4 linked regions of the Homo sapiens genome follow. The protein of the gene in region 1 interacts with the protein of each later gene in a biochemical or structural test. Each region holds a gene or a part of one and is shown on either strand. Other genes may lie near its edges.

Evidence for each region.
Region 2: of the proteins of PTPRC (region 1) and CSK, one has a biochemical effect on the other in vitro, tested with the Homo sapiens proteins (2 studies listed by IntAct).
Region 3: the proteins of PTPRC (region 1) and ITGAL form a complex in vitro, tested with the Homo sapiens proteins (one study listed by BioGRID).
Region 4: the proteins of PTPRC (region 1) and FYN form a complex in vitro, tested with the Homo sapiens proteins (one study listed by BioGRID).

The regions. Positions count from the first base shown.
Region 1 is NC_000001.11:198,754,020-198,757,990, reverse strand, and holds the end of PTPRC (receptor-type tyrosine-protein phosphatase C isoform 1 precursor), read right to left. Parts: intron 3,723-3,971; coding exon 3,587-3,722; intron 2,086-3,586; coding exon 1,810-2,085; 3' UTR 515-1,809; downstream 1-514. UniProt on the Homo sapiens protein: Protein tyrosine-protein phosphatase required for T-cell activation through the antigen receptor. Acts as a positive regulator of T-cell coactivation upon binding to DPP4.
Region 2 is NC_000015.10:74,792,080-74,799,113, reverse strand, and holds part of CSK (tyrosine-protein kinase CSK), read right to left. Parts: intron 6,069-7,034; exon of another isoform or gene 5,866-6,068; intron 903-5,865; exon of another isoform or gene 882-902; 5' UTR 817-881; coding exon 802-816; intron 500-801; coding exon 386-499; intron 289-385; coding exon 176-288; intron 1-175. UniProt on the Homo sapiens protein: Non-receptor tyrosine-protein kinase that plays an important role in the regulation of cell growth, differentiation, migration and immune response.
Region 3 is NC_000016.10:30,482,723-30,489,756, forward strand, and holds part of ITGAL (integrin alpha-L isoform a precursor), read left to right. Parts: intron 1-415; exon of another isoform or gene 416-472; intron 473-1,104; coding exon 1,105-1,237; intron 1,238-1,390; coding exon 1,391-1,541; intron 1,542-6,172; exon of another isoform or gene 6,173-6,244; coding exon of another isoform or gene 6,245-6,266; intron 6,267-6,359; coding exon 6,360-6,433; intron 6,434-6,531; coding exon 6,532-6,664; intron 6,665-7,034.
Region 4 is NC_000006.12:111,702,432-111,709,465, forward strand, and holds part of FYN (tyrosine-protein kinase Fyn), read right to left. Parts: intron 6,626-7,034; exon of another isoform or gene 6,575-6,625; coding exon of another isoform or gene 6,516-6,574; intron 5,590-6,515; coding exon 5,491-5,589; intron 1,672-5,490; coding exon 1,568-1,671; intron 604-1,567; coding exon 454-603; intron 1-453. UniProt on the Homo sapiens protein: Non-receptor tyrosine-protein kinase that plays a role in many biological processes including regulation of cell growth and survival, cell adhesion, integrin-mediated signaling, cytoskeletal remodeling, cell motility, immune response and axon guidance.

The sequences.
Region 1 (3,971 bases):
CAATTAACAGATAAAGTAGGCATACATCATAATGTTCTATTGAACATGAGAACTGCAAATTTTAACTACATTATCTAGAAAATGGCAACTGATCAAGTTTCAATAAAAGAAAAGAATGCATAATAGTTTGAGTGACTGAAGAGGTAAGTGAAAGCAAACTTTATTTTTTGTGCCCATAATTGGTGATTCTAATCCCCTTTTCTCATTAATAAGTAAAGATGTAATAAGTAACCTTAATATAAATTAGAAACTGTGGCTTCATTGTAAAATTTACTTCTTTTCATCTGTTAAATAAGCACAAGGATCTATATACTACTATAAGGGTTAATTGTTAATTTTATATGTTACAATAGTGAAATAATTAGAAGTAGGGACACAAAATAAATGTGAGTTGAATGGACAATAATCGGTGCTGTATAGTTAAGACATATAAAATCAGACAAAAGAGTAAAGATATAGAAAACCAAACCAATCTAAAGGTTGTGTTTGACCTTCATGATAAGCTATTACAGAATTCACCAAAACGAGTTTTTATTACTTCATGAAAAATACCACTATTCTTGATTTTTTTTTTCTAGATCTTAAACAATTATTAGACTATTGGATAATTGGGGCCTGTAAAAGTGTCCTGCAAATGTTAATAAATGCATTAAACATATTTCAATAGGTGCATACACATTTCATATTTGAACATATAACACAATGTATTATAAACAAGAAAAAAATAATGGTTGAATTTTATTATGATTAGCGACATCCATTCCTGGTAAAAACATTCTAAGCATTGGAGAAATTCAAAGTAAATGCTTTAATGAAAGTTATGAATGGGATTTAACATGGGAACTATGCATATGCAATATCATATTTTTCATATCAATGAAAAATTCCATAAAAATAGCTATATTAAATTTCATATGTAAATATTTAACAAATATGTTTGTATTCTTCTATTTTTATACAATGAATATTAATACATATTGCATTTATTTATTTTAATGACATTTATTTAAGTTCAATTGTACAAAACCTAATTTGTTGTCAAAAGTATCAAGCAATAAATTTTAAATATTGTACAGGGAATAATCGAGCATGCAAAATTGAAAACCCCATGTAAAGACAGCATGATAAGCTCACTGGAAATTTTTTAATTAAATAAGCTTAAAAAGACATTGGACTAAATGCTAATATATGGAATATAAGATTTCCCAATGTTAATTTAGTTAACAACTTTTTTGTAGTAGCATACACACACATACCACCTTTATGTACTATCTCTAGAAGTAAAATAGTAAACTATATAAGATAGATATATATGAGTAGAACAAGGAGGACATCTTGAGGTCATTTCAGAAATGTACATGATTTTATTGAGTCTGCACACAGTTTATGATTTTTAAAAACAGATCCTTCAAGCTAAGTTAACACTTCTAATATAAAATGTATTTTTTCTTCATAAAAACAAAGGAAAAGCAAAAGCTTTTAGATTCACTTGAAAGAATTCTCTCTCTTTCTCTGTCTCTCACACAAACACACACCCATACACACATACATATACACACATAACGATTACAAAGAAGTTGTTTTTTACTGAATAAGAGATAAAATTTTAAAATAAGCATACGTCTGTACAAACTGTTCTGGCAAAACTATCTTAAATATTTTTCCACAGTAGTAAAATATAACCCTTCTACAAATATTGGTTCGCTGCATTTAATTAATCCACTGTATACCTATTTTCACTTCCTACTTCTACAAAAATAGAAATAACAGCTAACAGGAGGTTTGGAGTTTCCTCATTTATGTCTTTTCCTATGAACCTTGATTTAAAGCTGGACTTGCAGGACCATTGACAGAATGTTCTGGCCCCTCAGTGCCACTCGTGGGTTCAGAACCTTCAGCCTGTTCCTTTGCTTCAGGGAGCTTTTCTGGGGCACCAAGTGGATTAACACAATTAGCATCCTGCTTTACTTTGTCCACTTCATTATCAAATTCAATTTTATCTTCTTGATGGTTGTTTTTCTTTACTTGTCCATTCTGAGCAGGGTAGGTGCTGGCAATGACGTCATATAGGAATTGATATTGCTCCTAGTAAAGGAATTAAGTGGGAAATTACATGAAGAAAGTTGATGTCATTATTTTTATGCCAGATGAAGATTAGCAAGAACTAATGATTTATTTGTGGAAGTATTGGATGACAGAAAAGTACTTTTTGATATGTTCTCATAAAAACATCTAAATAATTTAGTTTCTTTATGGTGCTAAAGGGTTGACTGCAGGATACTTTTTGAACTTTACCTTGGAGCAACCCCAAACCAGTGTTCACTCCGCTCATGGGCCATTTCCATGCCTTTGCTCATGATGCCACGTTTTGTACTTATCCTCCTGTCTAATGCCTACACATTATTTAAGAATCAGGGCAGGAATCACTGCTTCGAGAAGCGTTTCTTGATTCCTAAAGTTTAAATTAAATGCCCTCATTCATGTTCTTCTTATAATTTTTCTGTCATTTTACTCACTACATTGATTAGTAAATACCTGGCTTTCCCTCATACCAATTAGCTCTTTATAGCAAGAGCACATAGCAAGCATTTGATACATTTTTAAGTACCAAGATATGAAATCTCAATATCATACATGATTAAAAGCTTTATATATTTTAGTGAGTAATTAAGTTTACACTGTGAATAAGGATTAATTCCCAGATGACCATCTACAGTTACTACCACATAGAGGGTATACACGATAGATCGATTACAAGAATATAAAACTTATTTTCCTTCCTGTATCCACATTTCTTTGCAATGTGAATTTGCAGGCCCTCTCAAGAAGTGGAGTCTATTTCCCTACCCCTTGAATCTGGGCAGGCTTTATGACTTATTTATTTGGCTAATAACATACAGAAGAAGACATGTGTGTCACTTTTAAGCCTGGGCCTCAAGTGGTCTCACACAAGTCTTCTTTCCCTTGTGGAACTTGCTGCTTTAATGTGAATAGGCCTGGGCTAGTCTTCTGGATGAGGAGGGACATGTGGCCCACTCACTGTTGTTGCCATAGCTAAATGGCAGCCACATGCCAGCCTACTGGCAGTGTAGGTCACTTTAGACCAGCCAAACTGTAGGGCACACATCAGCTGAAGGCAGACACATGAGTCAGCCTGGTCTCTATTGCCTGAGCCTGAGGGCACCAGCAGAACATTCCAGCATATCATTAGACTACTGAACCATAATAAATGTTATTTGTTTAGGCTCCCAAATTTGGGGGTGGTTTGTTACACAACACAAATCGATACAGGAGTGAAGGAAAGAAAATTAAGAAATTCATGAGCATTTAGGGAAAGGCTCTTCATGAACTGTCACAACAAAGTGCTAGTAAACTTTAGGCTCTTATTTAGACTTATAATAATTTAATGTGAATTATCATGTAAAAGTAGAAAAGCTAAAAGAATAGGAAAGAAAATAGAGAAGAGAAAAGGAAAGGGGAAAAAAGAACAAACGAGAGGAAAGGAGAGGAGAAAAGAAAAAAGGAAACCGTCAAAAAGAAAAAAAAAATTCCGAGCATGTTAAAAGCAATGGTGAAGGATACTTACGAATGTGGAAACCATGCCTGGCCTAGCTTTGCGTAGAGCTTTTACCACTTGAAAAATATCCACTACCTCTTCTGTTTCCGCACTTTCTAAGAGATTTAACAAAGCACAAAATATTCCCGTTTGCTGAGATCCATCCCTATAAAAGAAAGAAAAGATAGAAAATAATCCTACTTCTCACCAAAAAGGGTGATATTAGAATAAAAACAGGAAGAGAGAGAATATATTTTTTGCTTCATGTTTATCATAATTATCTTATTCCAACCTCTTTCAAGAACCAAATTATTTACGCTAAATGCATTTTTAGGCAAATTTTTCAATTTAAGAGTGTGATAATCCTGGAATTGAAAACTTATTTGTCTTCGACTTTACAAATATATTTTCTTTT
Region 2 (7,034 bases), on another chromosome or scaffold:
CTCCTGCCTCTGCCCCCAGCCCTGCTCTGTGAGGTCCCGCACCCGCACCCTGCACCTCCTCCTGAGGCCCTCCCCAACACCCAAGCCCCTCACTCTGGCCTCCCTGCTTGCTCCTGATGCTCCTTCAGGAGGACCAAGGCCCCTTCCCTCCCCAACCCCTCCTCGTGGTACTCACGGCATGAGGCTGAGTTTGGTACCCGCCTTCACGCCCTCCCGCTTCTGGACGTAGTTGGCTGGGATGATGCCCTCACGGCCCACCTTGTTTTTGGCTTTGTACCAGTTGGGGTCCTGGGGAGAGGGCAGCCCAGACATGCTCTCAGGCCCACCTCCCCCTGCAGAGGGAAGGCCCAGCAGTGGGATGGTGGGGTGGGCGTCACCTGATTACCTTGGTGACGGCCACAATGGTGAGCACGTCTCCTTTGCAGAAGGGCAGGTCCTGCTCGGCAGTGCCGTGGAAGTTGTACTTGGCAATACATTCTGTACCGGATGGCCAGGCGGCCTGCAAGGCAGGTGACACGTGGGCGGGTGCAGCCTGGGCCCCCTCCAGCCACCTGCTGGCGCACCCTCGTGGTCACAGCCTCTGAGCTGGCCTCTGTGAGCCTGGGTGAGGTGCTCTGCCCGGAGAACGAGCCCTGGGTCCCTTCCTGTTGAGACTCCCCCACTTCCCCAGGCCTGTACCTGACTGAGTGCTGGGAAAAAGGGGAGTGGGTTGATCTAAGCTGCATCCTCTCTCCTCTGCTAAGCACCCCGCTGGGGCTGGTGGGAATGCTTGCATGTCCCAGACCCTCACCCCTGTGGTACCTGTATTGCTGACATCTTCTCAGGAGCTCTGGCGTCCCCGAGTCACAGTAAAGCCAACCTGTCACTTGGTACCATTAGAGCTGTGGGGAAGAGCATGAAGACTGAGGAGGGGTGTGAAGAAATGCCCCCCAACTGCTGAGATCTGGCTCCTCACTGGGCATGAACAGGTGCCAAGAGTGTCCTGCGCTGGGATTTGACACATGGGCCATTCTCTCCAGTCCTGGCAGGCTGACGGTACTGGGTAGAGGAGCATGAGGGCTGAGGACCCCCAGGGGCAGAGGGAGCCACCAACCCTAAGGCCACAGGGGGCCTTCCAGGACTGATAGAAAGGAGCAAAGGGGGCTAGTGGGACAATGGACACCTGACCGTCAGCCCCAGGCCTGGTTCCAGCTACTGTTCTGTGGGGAAAGGGGCCCCGGAGCAGCTCTGAGAAGGGGCTATGTGATCTGAGAAAGTCCCTTATGCTCTGTGGGTCCTTGGGTCCTTCACCTGCAAAATCCCGCCCAGGTAGCATCTCTAAACATATACCAACCCCACTTCTAGGTACACACCGAGAGGACACAGGACATGTGTCTGCCTAGACAGGCACAGGAGGGCTACAAGTGGCATGCTTTGTAATAAACCTCAAACTGGGAGCTGCCCAGATGCCGATCCAGAGGAAAATGGATAAACAGTGGCATATTCACAAAAGGGACTACGTACAGCAGTAAACACCAACCATTAAATAAACTCCAACACAAACTCCAACCATTAAATAACACTGATGAATTTCTTTTCTTTTCTTTTTTTGAGATGGAGTCTGGCTCTGTCACCCAGGCTGGAGTGCAGTAGCACAATCTCGGCTCATTGCAACCTCCACCTCCTGAGTAGCTGGGATTACAGGCATGCACCACCACAACCAGCTAATTTTTGTATTTTCAGTAGAGATGGGGTTTCACCATGTTGGCCAGGCTGGTCTCGAACTCCTGACCTCAGGTGATCCACCCACCTCGGCCTCCCAAAATGCTGGGATTACAGGTGCCAGTCACCGTGCCTGGCCAATCCCGATAAATTTCAAAACATAATGATGGCTAGGCACAGTGGCTCACACCTGTAATCTCAGCACTTTGGGAAGCTGAGGCAGACAGATGGCTTAAACCCAGGAGGAGTTCAAGACCAGTCTCGGCAACATGGCGAAACCCGGTCTCTACTAAAGATACAAAAATTAGCCGGGGGTGGTACTGCGTGCTTGTACTCCCAGCTACTCAGGAGGCTGAGGTGGGAGGATCGCTTGAGCCTGGGGAGGTCAAGGCTACAGTGAGCCAAGGTCACACCACTGCACTCCAGCCTGGGCGACAGAGTGAGACCCTGCCTCTAAATGAATGAATAAATAAATAAATAAATAAAATGTTAACCAAGAAGCCAGACACAGGAAAGTACATATTATGTAATTCCATTTGAATAAAGTTCAAAATCTGGCCAAACTAATCCATGCTGTCAGGATAGCTGCTCTTGGGACAGGGAGACTGGAAGGAATGCAAGGGGACCTCTGGGGTTGGTTTTCAGACTGTCTGAGCCCAATCATGAAGTGGGTCCACTCTGTGACAATTCACTGAGCTGTACCATTGCGATCGGCACACTTTTTGGTGTATAGTGCACACTTGAACAACTCGGGTCTGAACTGCGCAGGTCCAGTTACACATGGATTTTTTCTTTTTCTTTTCTTTTTTTTTTTTTTTTGAGAAAGGGTCTCACTCTGTTGCCCAGGCAGGAGTGCAGTGACGTGATCATAGCTCACAGCAGCCTCAAACCCCTGGGTTCAGCCAATCCTCCTGCCTCAGCCTCCTAAGTAGCGATTACCACAGGCATGCGCCACCACACGTGGCTGGATGTTTTTCAGTAAGTTACACTGAGTGTGCCTGCCTTTTCTGCCTTCCTTTCCACCTCCTCCGCCTCCACCTCTGCCACCTCTGTGACGGCAAGACCAACTCTTCCTCTTCCTCCTCAGCCTACTCAATGTGAAGGATGAAGACCTTCATAATGATCCCCTTCGACTTAAAGAATAGTAGATATATTTCCTCTTCCTTATGATTTTCTTTCTTTTTTTTTTTGAGACAGCAAGACTCTGTCGCCCAGGCTGGAACGCAGTGGTGGGGTGACTCACGGCTTACTGCAACTACCTCCGCCTCCCAGGTTCAAGTGATTCTCATGCCTTGACCACCTGAGTAGCTGGGATCATAGGCGTGCGCCAACACAGCAGACCAATTTTTGTATTTTTAGTAGATACAGGGTTTCACCATATTGGCCATGCTGGTCTTGAACTCCTGGCCTCAAGTGATCCGCCTGCCCCAGCCTCCCAATGTGCTGAGATTACAGGTGTGAGCCACTGCACCCGGCCATATGATTTTCTTATTTTATTTTCACTAGCTTACTTTATTGTAAGAATACAGTATATAATATATATAACAAACAAAATGAGTGTCAATCAACTTTATCTACAAGGCTTTCTGACAACAATAGGCTATTAGTAGTTAAGTTTTTGAGGAGTCAAAAGTTAATATATGATTTTTTGACTGCAGGGAGGAGGTTGATGCCCTCAACCCCTGTGTTGTTCAAGGGTCAACCGTATATTTACTTCAATAAAGTTGACTCCCCAAAAAAGCTACCCTAGCCAACCCCATTCCCTGAGAGCAGCAACCCACCCGTCTGCACACACATACTTTGTAATCCCAGCCCAGAGCCCCCTTGGACCTGTCTCAGGAAGCAGAGGGGCTGGAACTACTGTTTCCTTTCTACGGGTGAGGAAACTGAGGGTGAGAAAGGGCCAGTGGCATCTTCGTGGTCACAGTGTGTTAGAAGAGAAACTCCTCCATGAGCCTCTTTGCTGGGCTCTTTGATACAGTGGATGAGGTCTGGGGGCTAGGCTGACAGTCACAAATATTGCTACCTACCCCAGTGGAAGGAGACATTTTATTTTATTATTATTGTTATTATTGCGACGGAGTCTTGCTCTGTTGCCCAGGCTGGAGTGCAGTGGCGCGGGAGAAGACATTTTAGTGCAAAGTGCTGGGGGTGTGAAGTAGGCACGGACTGCAGAGCTCAGACAGGCTCCCTGGAGGAGGGAGCTCTGGGGCTGAGCCCTGAAGATTGCAGGGCTTACACAGGCAGAGGGCGGGCCAGGGAAGGCACCCCAGGTTGATGCAGCAGTCTGAGCAAAGGTGTCAGGCAGGGGACTGGCATAGTATGAGAAACTGGCCCAGGTGGAAGCCGATGGTGAGGGAAGCGGGAAGGCAGACCCTGCCCATCTGGGGCTCTAGGACCCCACACACTTCCAGAGTCCACCTTGAGCACCGCTGCTCAGGGGACACTGTAGGGGATGGTTTCAAGTGGGCCTGGCATAAACTCTGCCAGGCAGCAGGGGGACTTCCACTGCCAATGTGAGGAACCAGGGTTTGACTCCAAGGGCGATGGGGCCTCAGCAGGGGGGCATGTGATCATGGAGAGCAGAAGGAGCTGGGGAGGAGACGGCCAGGGAGAACCAACACTTCCAGGCCGCACACCTGGCTCTATAGTCAGGCCTGGGCTTAATACCTGGCTCTGTTGACTGTGCGACTTGGGGTGAGTGACTCAACCCTTCTAAGTCTTGCTTACCCTGAAGGGGAGGACAGGTATCTCCTGCAAGCTGGCTGAGGAGGGGCTGGAATGAAACCCTGAACTTGGAAATGTCTGGTGCGCCCCTGCCCCATCCCCTGGATGAAAGAGCTTCCGTTCCTCCCAGAATACAGGGCCCTTTCTATCCCCAGAGGCCAGGCCATCAATCCTGCTGTTTAGGCAGGGACACTGAGGCCCAAGGAGGATGAGCCTGAAACCTGCCTCCATCCACATGACTCAGTCACCACTAAGTACAGGAACCATCCCTTGCCCCTGCCTCCTGTGGACTGTAAGCTGTGAGGGTGGGGGTGGCGGGGACCCCTTGCCCCTGCCTCCTGTGGACTGTAAGCTGTGGGGGTGGGGGTGGCGGGGACCCCTTACCCCTGCCTCCTGTGGACTGTAAGCTGTGGGGGTGGGGGTGGCGGGGACCCCTTGCCCCTGCCTCCTGTGGACTGTAAGCTGTGAGGGTGGGGGTGGCGGGGACCCCTTGCCCCTGCCTCCTGTGGACTGTAAGCTGTGAGGGTGGGGGTGGTGAGGACCCCTTGCCCCTGCCTCCTGTGGACTGTAAGCTGTGGGGGTGGGGGTGGCGGGGAGGGAAGGAGGATTGTGAGCTCTTCTAACCCTCTTACCCCCATTTCACAGAAGCGGAAACTGAGGCTCAACTGGTTGAACAATTTGCCTGAAGTCACATAGCTAGTTAGGGGTGACAGAGCTTGAATTAGGGTCCCACTAGGGCTGGCTGGGCCCCCAACCTTTAGGTCCTTCTGAATAGGGGCCCTGCTAGCATTCCACATCCCCATGCCTCCCCCTTCCTCCCCAAACTCCCTGCCACCACAGGGGGGCGCGGAGGCTGCTGCGCTGTTAGTCACCCTTCCAGCTGTCAGTTTGCAAACACTCCCTTCCTGGCCTACAGCTACTGCCACCGCCGCCTCCCCACTGCCTTGATTATAATAATAAAAATAATAACAGGCCCTGTTTTCTGAGCACTTATTCTGTGCCAGGCCCTGTCCTTGGCACGTTATGGCTCATCACATCCTCTAACAACTCTGAGACAGAGAAGCTATTATTATCCCCATTTTGCAGATGAGAACCCCAAGTGAGGCCCACAGGGGCAAGGCGGGGGTCCCTAGGGCCACACCTTGAGTGAGCATTCTGTCCCCCTCAGGTGTCAAACTCCTGAGCTGCTGAGCCAGCCCTCCCCATAGCCCCGTGCCTCCCTGCCGGACAGGCCCCAGGAGTTGCCATGGGGACCACACTAGCCTAGGGGCAAGGGAGAGGAGGGAGGAGGGAGGAGGCAGAAGCAGCTATGAGGGGCACAGGGGCGGTGCTCAGGGAAGGGTAAGCCTAGGAGCGGTCGGGGTGGGCTGCCTCAAGGAGCTGGGCTCTGAAGGCCTCAGAGGGTCTGGAAACAGGGAAGAGGGCTAAACTCATCACCTTTACTCTGCTGGCTGTGACTCTAGAACCCAGCTTCCCCATCTGTGCAATGGACTGGTGATACTCCTTGGCTCTGGGGGCTGCTGTGAGGACTGGAGTTGAGCTCTCAGCACCAGAACAGTGCCTGCCTTGCCACAGACATCTTGCAAGTGGGAGCTGCTAACTCTCTTGGACGGCTCCTCCCTGGTGGGGTCATGAGACCCCTGAATGAATGAATAAATGAACAAACAAAAGGGGGAATCCAGCCTGGCTACATCACACTGAGGTCCCATAACCAATGGGACTATAGTTAACCCCAAAGGGACTATAGTTAACCCCAAAGCGATAGCAGCTGTCACCCCACCCCCACAGAGCTAGGGGACAAGGGGCTTGGGATGTGGCAGGACCAGTGCTTCACGCTGACTTCCTGCCCCAAACCCGGCTCCCAGTAGCCCTTGTGCTGGGGTCCCGGGAACAGGCTGGCATTGTGCCCAAGCACTGACGTCAGTGGCCGCAGACAAGATGGCTCAGTGGCTTCCCAGCTAGTGCCTAGGCCGGGGTCCCCTCCTTAAAACATCTCCAGAAGGTGAGACCCTCCCACTGCAGGTCAGAGGCTGACAGCCAGAGTGGCTGGGAGGAGCTACTGCAAACTTAGGCCTCTACAACCCAGCGGGGGTCAGGCACAGAGAGGGGGTCCTTCCTGGGGTTATTTAAACTTAAGAGTCGGGCTACTCTATGGAACAGTGCAGGAACATCGTCCTGGGTGTCAGATGCTCTGAGTCCTGTACCCAGCTCTGCCATCAACTTGCTGTGTGACCTTGGGAAAGTCACTTGACCTTTCTGGGACTTGTTGGCTTCTGGTACCTTAGCCAGACCTGTTTCCCATCTGCTGTTGCCAGGACACCTGTGCCCTGTCTCCCTCCCCGCCTTGCCATTCCCTTCACACTCTCTCCTCCTCCTTTACCGAGGGACTTCCACTCAACCTTGGGGGTGCAGCTGAGCAACTGCTTCTGGAGTACCCATGCCTTAAAAAAACACAGCAGGACAGTCCCTGCAGTGCTGTCTGTAGTAGCAGGAGATGATGGGGAGACAGCCTTTATGTCCATCAGTTGGGGGCTGGGTGGATAAATTACAAGATGTCCCTGAAAGGGGACAGCATAGCTCTAGCTGTGATGGGGCCAGGGGAGATC
Region 3 (7,034 bases), on another chromosome or scaffold:
CAGGTGTTCATGGGTAAGACGGTTCACACCTTGCTGCTGTTCCAGCAAGAGCTATGGCCAACCCAACTTGCTCAGAGGAAGGCTGTGGGCAAAACAGGAATTTTCTTTTTCTTTTTTTTTTAGAGTCAAGGTCTCACTCTGTTGCCCAGGCTGGAGCGCAGTGACGTGATCCTAGCTCACTGCAGCCTCAAACTCCTGGGCTCAAGCGATCCTCCTGTCTCAGCCTCCTGAGTAGTTGGGACTACAATCACACACCACCATGCCTGGCTAATTGTTTTCATCTTTGTAGAGTTGGAGTCTCGCTATGTTGCCCAGAATGGTCTGGAACTCCCAGGGCAGAAATTTTTAGCCTTGGCCCATCTGGTGTTCAGTTCTCCCTTCTTTATTTTATTTTTTTAATTTTTTTGAGGGTGGAGGATTTTAGCAAAAAACAGAAAGCCTGCTAGACAAATTCTAAAAGAGCTGTAACACTAGTTCTCCCTCCTTCATCTCACATGCACAACCGCCTCCTTTGTGCTGGGAGCCAGAGATACAGCAACAAATCCAACATGGTCCTTTCCTTGAGGAACTCATGGTTTAGGGGGAAAATTGACAGAGAAATGAGTCACGGTAATTCACTAGGTTCACTGCTATGGTAGAGATCCGGAGGCAGCCTGTGGACTATGGGAAGGCAGAGGAGGTGCTGGAAGAGCTTGCTCTGGAAGAGTGACTCCCCAGTTTTCTTCAGCTGTAGGACCCTCTCTTCCACATTGAAATCTCACTTGGATCAATATCTGTAGCTGATTAAAGAGTGGTGGCCATGTGGTTGCAATGGAGGGTAGGAAGCCCAGAGTCATTCCTCACAAAACCTCCTCCTCCTGTCCATGGGCTCTGGGACACCCTCTGGACTGCCCAGGATGCAGTGTGAGGACCACTGGTCCAGAAGGAAAGGGGTGGCAGCAAAGAGGTTTAGAGGTGACTGCTGCAGGCTTGGAATCCCGGCCTGGGAGATCCAGGAAGGGCTTTTGCGTAACCAGCATGGAGGTGACTTGATGAGCAGGTGGGGAAAGAGACCTCAGGCCCTAGTTTGGGGGAGTCTCTCATCTCCTCCTTTCCTGGACACAGGACAGAGGTGTTCCGGGAGGAGCTGGGGGCCCGGCCAGATGCCACCAAAGTGCTTATCATCATCACGGATGGGGAGGCCACTGACAGTGGCAACATCGATGCGGCCAAAGACATCATCCGCTACATCATCGGGGTAGGGCCCCTGCTGCTTCCTGCATCATATCTTCCCTCTCCTCTTTCTGAACCCCAAGCCCCTTTCTCCCTGGGGCCAGACTCTTGTGAAAATAATAGCAAACTGGACTGAGGTTTGGGGGATTTCAGCTCTTCACTCTCCACTCCCTCACAGATTGGAAAGCATTTTCAGACCAAGGAGAGTCAGGAGACCCTCCACAAATTTGCATCAAAACCCGCGAGCGAGTTTGTGAAAATTCTGGACACATTTGAGAAGCTGAAAGATCTATTCACTGAGCTGCAGAAGAAGATCTATGTCATTGAGGGTGAGTGGCAGGCCCTGGGAGAGGGCTCGGGAGTCTGCATAAAGAAATTCCCCTGGGACATCAGGCCGGGCTTGGTGGCTCACACCTGTAATCCCAGCACTTTGGGAGGCCGAGGCAGGTGGATCAATTGAGCTCAGGAGTTTGAGACCAGCCTGGGCAACATGGCAAAACCCCATCTATACTAAAAATACAAAAAATAGCCAGGTGTGGTGGTGGGTGCCTGTAATCCCACTACTCAGGAGGCTGAGGCGCAAGAATCGCTTGAACTCAGGAGGCAGAGGTTGCAGTGAGCCAAGATCGCACCACACTGCACTCCAGCCTGGGTGGCAGAGGAAGACTCCATTTCAAAAAATAAAAAACAAAAAACAAAAATGGCCGGACGCGGTGGCTCACACCTGTAATCCCAGCACTTTGGGAGGCTGAGGTGGGCAGATCACCTGAGGTCAGGAGTTCGAGACCAGCCTGGCCAACATGGCGAAACCCCGTCTCTACTAAAAATACAAAAATTAGCTGGGCTTGGTGGTGCATGCCTGTAATCCCAGCTACTCAGGGGGCTGAGGCAGGAGAATCGCTTGAACCCAGGAGGCGGAGGTTGTAGTGAGCTGAGATGTGCCATTGCACTCCAGCCTGGGCAACACAGCAAGACTCAGTCTCAAACAAAACAAAACAAAACAAAAAAACAAAAAAAAACCTCCCCTGGGACATCCTATTAGAAACACAAAGAATAATAAGCACTTACTGAATATCTGATCTTGTGCCAAGGGCTTGCCTAAATAAAACAGACCTTTAGAAGGAATTTAGGAGAGGGCCATTTGAGAGCAGCCTCTGTGATCTTTCTTTCTCTTCCTTCTTTCTCTCCTTCCTTCCTTCCTCCCTTCCTTCCCTTTCCCTCTCCTCCCCTCCCCTCTCCTCCCCTCTCCTCCCCCCTTCCTCTCCCCTCCTCTTCTCTTCTTTTCTCTTCTCTCTTTTCTTTTTTTTTTTGAGACAGAGTCTTGCTCTGTTGCCCAGGCTGGAGTGCAGTGGCGCAGTCTCTGCTCACTGCAAGCTCCACTTCCCAGGCTCACGCCATTCTCCTGCCTCAGCCTCCCGAGCAGCTGGGACTACAGGCGCCAGCCACCACGCCTGGCTAATTTTTGTATTTTTAGTAGAGACAGGGTTTCATCGTGTTAGCCAGGATGATCTCGATCTGACCTCGTGACCTGCCCGCCTTGGCCTCCCAAAGTGCTGGGATTACAGGCGTGAGCCACTGCGCCCAGCCTCTTTTCTTTTTTGCTTTTCTTTCACAGGGTCTCACTCTGTCACCCAGGCTGGGGTACAGTGGCATGATCACAGCTCACTGCAGCCTTGACCTTCCAGGCTCAGGTGATCCTCCCACGTAGCTGGGACTACAGGTGTGTGATACCACACCTGGCTAATTTTTTTTTTTTTTTTTGTATTTTTTGTATTTTTTGTAGAGGCAGGGATCTCGCTATGTTGCCTGGGCTGGTCTCGAATTCCTGGCCCCAAGCAATCTGCCCACCTCGGCCTCCTAAAGTGCTAGGATTACAGGCGTGAGCCACTGCACCCGGCCCTCTCTGATATTTCTTTCTGAAATTCCATCTTCTCTTGGAGCTCAGGTTGATCTAGGACTGACCTATGTCTTGCTGGTGTGATCTGAGCCCCGCAGAGTGAATGTAATTCCTCCCCCTTCTTGCTCAACTGTCTTGCTGTCACTTATCCAAGGCTCCACATTACTTCAGAAGGGCAGGCTGGCAGGGGCCAGTGTGAAGAACCCACAAGTCTTCTTTCCTGGCCTAGAATAAGAGAAGATTTATATTGTGGTCACCAGATGGAGGACTGGTTATGGAGGGCATTTCCCCAGGAAGCTTACTTGACTGAAAGATATGTGATTCCTACAGGAAAGTCTCCTTTGCTAGGACACAGCCTTGGTGTTCGGTTCAGTTAAAGAAGCAATGGGCTGAGCGTGGTGGCTCACGCTTGTCATCCCAACACTCTGGGAGGCTGAGGCAGGCGGATCACTTGAGGTCACCCAGCTACTTGGGAGGCTAAAGTAGGAGAATCGCTTGAACCCAGGAGGCAGAGGTTGCAGTGAGCTGAGATTGTGACACTGTACTCCAGCCTGGGTGACAAGAGCAAAACTGTCTCAAAAAAAAAAAAAAAATCAGCAGCAATGGTCCAGCCTGGGCAGCATAGCAAGAAGCCATGTCTAAATAATTAATAAAAATGAAAAGTGATTTTTTAAAAAAAAGTTTTTAAAAAAAACTCACTCTCAACTGGCTTTTAAGCTGAGATATGAAAGATGAGATTCAAACAGCAATGTGAGAAAGGTGGAATGAGGGCAGAGAGAAGCACAGGTGCAAGCCCAGGGGCGGGGAAAGGGCTCGGCATGCCAGGAAAATGGAAAAAGTTCAGTGTGACCGAAGCGCAGTGAGGAAGGGAGAGAGAAGGTTGGCAGGGAGGTAAGGGTCTTCCAGGCCCTCAGAAAGAGTTTGGATTTCAGTGTGAAGATCGATGAGAAATCATGAAGGAGTTTTTTGTTGTTGTTGTTTTGAGACAGGGACTCACTCTGTTGCCCAGACTGGAGTGCAGTAGTGCGATCACGGCTCACTGCAGCCTCAAACTCCTGGGCTCAAGCAGTCCTCCCACCTTGACCTCCTGAGTAGCTGGGACTACAGATACACACCACCACACCTGGCTAATTTTTAAATTTTTTGTAGAGACAAGAGTTTCTTAGCCAGGCGTGGTGGCGGGCGCCTGTAGTCCCAGCTACTCGGGAGGCTGAGGCAGGAGAATGGCGTGAATCCTGGAGGTGGAGTTCACAGTGAGCCAAGATTGTGCCACCGCCCTCCAGCCTGGGCGACAGAGTGAGACTCCGTCTCAAAAAAAAAAAAAAAAAAAAAAGAGTTTCTACTATATTGCCTAAGCAGGTCTTGAACTCCTGGGCTCAAGCAATCTTCCTGCTTCAGCCTCACATAGTGCTGGGATTACAGGCATGAGCCACTACGCCCGGCCGAGACAGAGTTTCTACTATATTGCCCAGCCTGATCTTTAACTCCTGGGCTCAAGCAAGTCTTCTGCCTCAGCCTCACAAAGTGTTGGGATTACAGGCGTGAGCCACTGTGCCCAGCCCATGAAGAGGTTTTTTGTTTTGTTTTGTTTTGTTTTTTGAGACAGTCTTGCTCTGTCACCAGGCTGGAGTGCAGTGGTGTGATCTTGGCTCACTGCAACCTCAGCCTCCTCGGTTCAAGCGATTCTCCTGCCTCAGCCTCCCAAGTAGCTAGTAGTACAGGCGCCTGCCACCACACCCAGATAAATTTTTTGTATTTTTAGTAGAGACGGGGTTTCACCATATTGGCCAGGCTGGTCTTGAACTCCTAACCTCAGGTAATCTGCCCGCCTTGGCCTCCCAAAGTGCTAGGATTACAGGTGTGAGCCACTGTGCCTGGCTTTTTTTTTTTTCAAGACAGAGTTTCACTGTGTCAGCCAGGCTGGAGAGCAGTGGTGCGATCTTGGCTCACTGCAACCTCCAGTTGTTTTTGAGCCTCCCAGCCTCGAGCAATTCTCCTGCCTCAGCCTCCCAAGTAGCTGGGATTACAGGCATGTCCCACCATGCCTAGCTAATTTTTGTACTTTTAGTAGAGATAGGGTTTCACCATGCTGGTCAGGCTGGTCTCAAACTCCTGACCTCAGGTAATCTGCTTGCCTTGGCCTCCCAAAGTGCTGGGATTACAGGCATGAGCCACCACGCACAGCCAGTGAAGAGTTCTTAAGGAGAAGCTATATAAGCCAGGCACGGTGGTGCATACCAGTAGTCCCAGCTACTTGGGATGCTGAGGCAGGAGGATCTCTTCAGCCTAGGAGTTTGAGACTGTAGTGAGCTATGATCACACCACTGCACTCCAGCCTGGGCAACACAGCAAGACCCTGTCTCAAAAAAAAAAAAAAGAAAAAGGGTGTATTTCAAAGGCAGGAGTATCATGATTTGGTGATGTGTTGGAGATGAGATGGAGTATAGAGAAGACTCCAGGTGGATTTGGTTTCTTAGCATGGTTCATTAGGTGAGTGGGGGTGCCATTCATTGAAGTGAGAAGCCTGAGTCAGAGCAGAAACCAAGAGCTGAGTCTTGGACACATGGAGATGAGTAATTGGATATTCAAATCTGGAGGCTGGGCACAGTGGCTCACACCTGTCATTGTCCCAACACATTGGGAGGCCGAGGCGGGTGGATCACCTGAGTTCGAGACCAGGCTGGCCAACATGGTGAAACCCCATCTCTACTAAAAATACAAAAATTAGCTGGGCATGGTGGTGCACCTATAATCCCAGCTACTCGGGAGGCTGAGGCAGGAGAATCGCTTGAACCCAGGAGGCAGAGGCTGTGGTGAGCTGAGATTGCACTACCGCACTCCAGCCTCGGTGACAGAGAGAGACTCCATCTCAAAAAAAAAAAAAAAAAAAAAAAAATTAGCCAGGTGTGATGGTGTGTGCCTATAGTCCCCACTATCCAGGAGGCTAAGCCCGGAGGGTTGCTTGAGCTTGGGTGGTTGAGGCTGCAGTGAGCTGTGATTGCGCCACTGCACTCCAACCTGGGCAACAGAGCAAGACCTTGTTTCAACAACAAAAAACAAACAAATCTGGGACTCCCAGGGTAAAAGCCAACTCCGCATTAAGCCACTTCCTGGGTCTGCCTGACCCTCACATGCATGCCTTCTACCTTACCCAGAAGTAAATACCTCACTTCTTCCCCGTCCTGCCATGAATTTTTTTCACTGCATTTACTGCTGTTGGGTCTCACCTGTTCTCTGCTTTGTTCCCCAGGCACAAGCAAACAGGACCTGACTTCCTTCAACATGGAGCTGTCCTCCAGCGGCATCAGTGCTGACCTCAGCAGGGTGCGTGCTGGGCTGGAGCAATGGGCTGCAGGGAGTGCAGTTGGCTCTGGGGGGTGGGTCGGTGGGTAGCTGACCCGCTCATCTCCTTCCCTGGGCAGGGCCATGCAGTCGTGGGGGCAGTAGGAGCCAAGGACTGGGCTGGGGGCTTTCTTGACCTGAAGGCAGACCTGCAGGATGACACATTTATTGGGAATGAACCATTGACACCAGAAGTGAGAGCAGGCTATTTGGGTGAGTACTTCTCTTTTCTGCTGGGATCTTCTGGTTGTTGAGGTCAGATGGTCGCTCAGCCTGGCTTCCAAAACAATAATGAAAGCAGTTAAGCAACCAGCATGAACAAAGTCAGAGTTTAAATATGGCTATAACATTCATAATTTATTGTCTGTATTTTCTGATGCTTTGACATCTTGGGGCCGTGCTAATCCTGAAAAGACTACCTCTCCCAGGGTAGGCAAATTCCTAGAGATAGTAAACAACTTGCCTGTGAATATGCCTTGTAGCTGGTCCTAGTGGCTCATGCCTGTAATCCCAGCAGTTTGGGAGGCTGAGGCAGGTGGATCACCTGAAGTCAAGAGTTCAAGACCAGCATGGCCAACATGGT
Region 4 (7,034 bases), on another chromosome or scaffold:
TAAATGGCTTGCATGAGAATGAAATGTACGTGCAGCTATTCCTGCAACAGTGCTGAGGGTAAAGTGATAGTGGAAACACAATATTCCTTGTAGGAGTCCCCATGTAAGCGCCCTCCGAGAGACTGCTTTCTCACATGCAACGCGGGGAATGGGAAAAGACAACTTGAAGATGAAAAAACAAACAACTTTTAAAATTTAACCTATTGCTTTCTACTTGGGAAACAAAAATATTATAGAATCTTCGGACAAACATGTGGAACTAATAATAACAACAGTAGAACAATAGCAATAGAACCTATACAGCCAAGCCCTACCATTAAGGGCTGGCAAAGAAAACATACTCTATAAGTGATTTTGTACATATTAGTTTTACCCCTTTCCACTTTCCTGCTCTGGGCCTATCCACTCCCTCCAGCATCCAAATGGTTAGTAGGTAGTTAGAATTAAGGTTACCTGAGTAATGTTGTACAAGCTGCTGAAGTGTTTCAAACTGGGCCCGGGTGGTAATGTAGTATCCACCATTGTCAAGTTTGCGAATTTTATAATGTTTGACATGGTCTCCTTTCATATCATCCCAATCACGGATAGAAAGTGAATAGGCACCTGGTAAACGTGGAAAGCATTAGCAGCTCCAATCATTTAGAGTATCAGCTTGCTTTTTAGGCCTCATTTTCTTGACTCTGATTAATAATTACCAAGGATGCACACACACATGTACACACACACAGCATCTCCACTCAGTAACAGGAAGAAGATGCTTCTTGATGTTCTGCAAATGTCAGAATATATTAGCAATAAAATGATTCTGCCCTTGAGACTGAAAGCTTCCTGGACATTTTTCTTAAACACACTGTTCGGTACCCCTTGTTGCATAATACAGCGTAGACTCAATTCCAACACTCCTTTCCCCCAAGGGTAAAGAAGGACCACGATGAATGGCTGAGCTTGCTTCCCTTGTCTTCTCTACCCAGGGGCATACTGGGAGGTAGCAGCAGCATGTGCAAAAGAAATCTAAGGCTTGTTTCTCTAGAAGTGAGCTTCAAGCTTCTGCTTTACAACACTTTTTACAGGAATGGATAATCTGGCAAATTAAGCTAGAGGCCACTACTCTTTTCTTCCTTGACCTGTCTCCTCTTGTGGGTTGTAAGGAGTTGTTAAATAATGAAAAGTCCAACAGTTGGAGGAAGAGAAGTGAAGTCCTCAGTTATTTAAAAAACAAAAGGAAAGCAAAAACAACCTGTATGACTGGCACCTGAGGAACTAAGATTTCAGAAAATCAAAATTCTAAAGGACTTCTGAAAATTCTACGATCTTGTGTGCCTGGAGCAGTGTAGCTGCATCCAGCCCGTTTCAGGAGGAAGGTCTTGATTTGGGGCCTCTGTAGTTCTTTTGGTGCTGTCTGCAGTTTTAGAGCCTGGAGGGAAGACTGAAAACAGGACTCCACTCACAAGGCAGGGAGGGTATGTGCCATTTTAAAATCCTTGTACATTAGAGATAAGCCTTTCATCCCCTCTGACTAATCCACAGATTTGAATGACAAGCCAACTTCTTCAACTCGTTATCTTACCTTTGGTGGTTTCACTCTCGCGGATAAGAAAGGTACCTCTTGGGTTTCCAAAGGACAATAGCTGTCGCTCAGCATCTTTTCGGCCAAGTTTTCCAAAGTACCACCTTTAAATTAGATCAAGGAAAGAAAATATTTTGAAATAGTCATTTACAAAATGCAACAGCATAGGCTTTTTTTTTGCCCATGAATTCCCCTCTCCTCCAATTTAGTCCTTAACCTTTCCCTGGATGTATTTTTTTTCTAGCTTAATTCAGTTCCTTTTCAATCTATCCTGGATTCTATCCCTAATTCATCTCTTTCACTCTTTAAAAAAAATCAGATTTGAGTTGTGGGTTGTTTTCCTCCCCTCTAGACATGACCAGAACTGGTTTGTGTTAAAACTGCCACCTGTATGCAAAAAACCAGAAATCTAAGACCTTGATTTGAAATGGTTACTGCAGGAGACCCTTTCCACACTTATCTAAAAGACTCTAGTCTGGGCATGGTGGCTCATACCTGTAATCCCAGCACTTTGGGAGGCCGAGGTGGGCAGATCACCTGAGGTCAGGAGTTTGAGATCAGCCTGGCCAACATGGTGAAACCCCAGCTCTACTAAAAATACAAAAATTAGCTTGGTGTGGTGGTGGGCACCTGTAATCCCAGGTACTCGGGAGGCTGAGGCAGGAGAATCACTTGAACCTGGGAGGCCCAGGCTGCAGTGAGCTGAGATTGTGCCATAGTATTCCAGCCTGGGTGACAGAGCAAAGCCGTGTCTCAAAACAAAACAAAACAAAAAAAACAAACGCCAGGCATGGTGGCTCATGCCTGTAATCCTAGCACTTTGGGAGGCCAAGGTGGGTGGATCATGAAGTCAGGAGATGGAGACAATGCTGGCTATCATGGTGAAACCCCATCTCCACTAAAAATACAAAAAATTAGCTGGGTGTGGTGGCATGCACCTGTAATCCCAGCTACTCAGGAGGCTGAGGCAGGAGAATTGCTTGAATCTGGAAGGTGGAGGTTGCAGTGAGCCAGGATTGCGCCACTGCACTCCAGCCTGGGCAACAGAGCGAGACTCTGTCTCATAACAAAAAATAAACAAAAAAACAAAACTCTTGAATCTCTTGATATCTAAGCATTATTGTAACTGCTGGGAAATAACAAAACACAGTCTTAATGTATATGAAGATAATCAAGCATTAAAAAAAGTCAGATTAGATAGATATGATATGAATAAAGGAATAGTATTTTCAATAACTTCCTCCCTATAAGAATTCTGAGAAAAACGCCCATGAGTACTTACTTGTATTTTGTTTTCCTCCCCTAGGTGTGTGAGGACTTGGATAAGTAAAGGCATTTATTTACCAAGCACCTGGATTGTGATCTGTGTTCATCATCTTCTTCTTCTTTTTTTTTTTTTTTTCTTGAGACAGGGTCTCACTCTGTCACCCAGGCTGGAGTGCAGTGGCATAATCATAGCTCACTGCAGCCTTGACCTCTCCAGGCTCAAGCAATCTTCCTACCTCAGCCTCCTGGGACTAAAGGTGCACATCACCACACCTGCTAACTAAAAAAATTTTTTTTGTAGAGGCTAAGAGTGGTGGCTCATGATTGTAATTCCAGCACTTTGGGAGGCTGAGGCAGGCAGATCACCTGAGGTCTGGAGTTCGAGGCCACCCTGGCCAACATGGTGAAATCCCAACTCTACTGAAAATACAAAAATTAGCTGGGCATGGTGGCATGTGCCTGTAATCTCAGCTATTCGGGAGGCTGGGGCACGAGAATTGCTTGAACCAGGGATGTGGAGGTTGCAGTGAGCTGAGACAGGGCCACTGCACTCTAGCCTGGGGACAGAGTGAGACTGTCTCCCTATGTTGCCCAGCATGGTCTCAAACTCCTGGGCTCAAGTGATCCTCTCGCCCTGGCCTCCCAAGTGCTGGGATTACAGGAGGGAGCCATCACGGTGGACCCTGTACATCTTTTCTTTGGCACAACTGTAAGAACTGGTTACTGTACACCTTTGAGATCTGTGCCCAGTCAAAAAGCATGCCCTTAAAATGACTTGGTGTTGCAGATATTTCAATATATTATCCCTGAAGAAACTAATGATACTCTGTGCCACTTTAGGAGGCATCACATTAAGTCACCTCAAGACTTTTGTTATTTGCCTTATATCCTCCCCCTGCACTTTCAAGCCTTAACCAAGCCTGGCAATTAGTTACTATTTCAGCACTAGGTGCTGAATGAGCAGCAGGTGCCCCCAAAACCCAAGGGAGAATGCTGGAGCATTCAATTGGAATCTGTGTGTGGGAACCATTTTTAGAATATTTAACTGTGAAAGAATCCAGATTCTAAAATGAAATTTCAATTCATTATGCTTGAATATAGGTATCATGAGTTCACTGTCAAATTCTTTTGTGAATTAAGTTTCACTGAAGAAAAGAGACATTGCGTATTAGCTCCTCAGTGACTTTTAGAAACACCAAAATGTGCAACAATTCTTAATCTAGCATTAGGTGGCGTAAAGACTAGTACGTCAATTATTTGTGAGAAATGGCTTTCTGGGTTTGTACCAATAACCCAATTAGAATGCCGTGTAAAACAGTGGTGAAAAAGGAATTGTTAGAACAATGGATTGCACCAAAACAATAGTATTTTAAGATAATGATAGTTAATTGCATATGTAAAACCGAAGGCATTATTTTAAAAAATAATATTCTTTAAAAACAAAATATTTAAAAAGTTGACCATTATAAAAATAACTTAAATATATAGCTGACAAATTCCCAGTTAAATCAGGGTAATGCTACATTTTGGTGGTACTTTTTATTCTGAAAGAACACAAAGATGTTTGCAAATCTGCCCTAAAATACAAATTAAATACAAATACCTTGATTCACTGATGACGAAACACAGTCACTAGGAGAAAGAAACAACTAAGAACCACTGAGTATTTGAGAGTGGGAAACAAAACAGATCCTCTTAGAGGAAATACAAAGGAATTAAAGAATAGAACAATCCAACTGGGGATTTGGCTAGGGTGTGGAGTCTAATCCCTCTTGCACTACTTAAACAAATCCATGGTGAAATTAAATAGCAGAGCCAAAGGTTGGGCTTGGTGACTGACTTTTCTCAACTTCCTTTTTAGAGAGGCAAGACCCAAGGTGTCAGGAGGAGGCCAAGTTCCTGCATTTGGGAAATCATGGCTCCATCTCTCCTTCCCTCAGGGCTGGCAAACAGCCACTGGCAGTTCTTCCCCTTGGGAGTGCCTGTTAATCCTCATGGGTCAGAAGAAGGGAGAAAGGTTATCCCTTTTAGATCCCTTCAGCCTACTGAACACCTTCCTAAACTGCTACCAGTTGAATAGTTGGGCCAAATAACTGCTCGTCACTGTTTACTACCAAAGAAGCCAACTGAGGTTCCAAATCACTGTAGTATTTCCCAAGTTGGGGGGACACACTGTATGTGAGTCACTTTTACCGGGCATAGAAGGTGTCTTTTCAGCACTCTTTTAATATTTCTGATCACACTTAGGAGAAAAATCTTAGTTTAATCTGTGGCAATTACTTGCTACTCTCCCCTCTCTTCCCAACAGAGGGAGTGGACTGCGGGCTTAGAAACTTGGGTTGGCAATAATATATGCTCTAGCTAGCATTTCATATTTTTATGGCTACTTTTAATCTATGACAAGTTTTACTGGCTTTTCATTTAGGGTATTGATAGAAAGTTTTCTTTCAAAATAAGTGAGCAGGCTTCAAGAGAAACATTAAGTTAATAATAGTGCAAGTATTACACAGGGTAAAAACCGGGGCAGAAAGCCTGAAAAACTCAGCCTTAATCACTGCTGTGAATTTCTTCTCCCTCCTGCCCAATGCTGATGGCATTTTATTGCGGCAATCAACTTTTAAAATCAAGTAGTTAAGTGAAAACAAAATGAAACATACTCTTCTGCCTGGATAGAGTCAACTGGAGCCACATAATTGCTGGGAATGTAACCTGTCTCTCCAGTTGTCAAGGAGCGGGCTTCCCACCAATCTCCTTCCCTGTAAATAAAAAAGAAAAGTAAATATGTTGACCATTTCAACAGCTTGCAGTTAGAGACTCACTGTGGTCTGAAGTGTATAACTGTCACCTAATCATCCTGCCACCCGATTTCTCCAACCTATTCCTTTACTCTGAACTCCAACATAGTCCCCCTGTGAAGGTCAGAAGGTTCCAGTTCGAGTCAGCCATGAGATGAACCCACAGTTGTCTCTTGCCTTATTTGTGAATTAAGAATGTGGAATCCTGGCCATGAGAAGTCTCTCTTGGTAGGGGGCATTTTGCTTGGTTAGTGTCCTTAACTTGGATGGATGGAAAAGGAATCCAGCCTCAGCCTAATTAAGCAGAACATGTTAGCTGCAGATCATCTGGGAAGGGAAGCTTTTTAGGAGGTCTGAGGTCAATATGAGCTGCACAGTACTGCTTCCCTATTGTAAGCACCCCTCTCTTTCAAGTTCAAATCATGACATTAGAAATGTTAACATCTTAACATTGGGAGGTTAGGAGGTCTGATGAGGGATGAAGGCATGCTCTAAACACGTGCCTGGCTTGCTCTCAAAAAGATGGGGAGACACCTCTCTGCAGGTAGAATGATGCTACAGTAGGATCACCTTCCCCAGGCATTTTCAGTCTGAAGTGATTCCATCAAATGTCCAGAGCACTGGCCTGAGGCTCATGGGCAAGGGGTGAGGATGGGAATGGCTGCGTGTGCTCGCACAGGTGAAGCACAGAAACTCGGCAAGGGAGTGAGATTTTTAGTCACGCCACTTTGTACTGCCTTAGGCTCCATGCCACAGCACAGCAGTGTGGTATCAATCTGGGGAGCTCTCAGAGGAGGTGAAAGGGGATCTTGTAGCTACTCTCATCTTAAAGCCAGTGAGTACATTAAGCAGTTCAAATTCATCTGCTTAGATTCAAACAGGGCTACCTGTGATGAAGAGCAGGAATGGAGTGTGTACCTCTTCCCATTAACATCGGGGAGGCCATGGATGTGGCGCTGCGGCTCTGACATCCACTGAGTATCTGCAGAACCTTCCACCAGCCTGCAGTCAACGACATGATTGCCCTCAAGCAAATCAGACCTCCCAGCAAATCTGATCTCCTGGGGCTCAGGACCTTCTTTTCCTCCTTTTTTGGTCCTTGGAGGCAGCAAGCAAAACTTCAGGCATTTTAAAAAAAAATCGTTCTTTTGGCTGAGTTCTGTGTCAAAGCTTTCAGCCAGGGGAAAAAAAAAATGTGTTAGCTTCTGGCCATGGTAAAGATGCTCCCCAGACAGATTTAATCAGGTAGAGAATAATCAGCCTCCACATTAAACTCAAGCATTACTCCAGAGGCCGCTCTCTAAAGCTGGACTCTCTGAGCAAGGTGAGCAGTGAGCAACGCCTCCAGATAGGATTTAATAGAGCAACAGAACAAAGGTGACCAGCCAGCATGTGCTGGGGGTGCT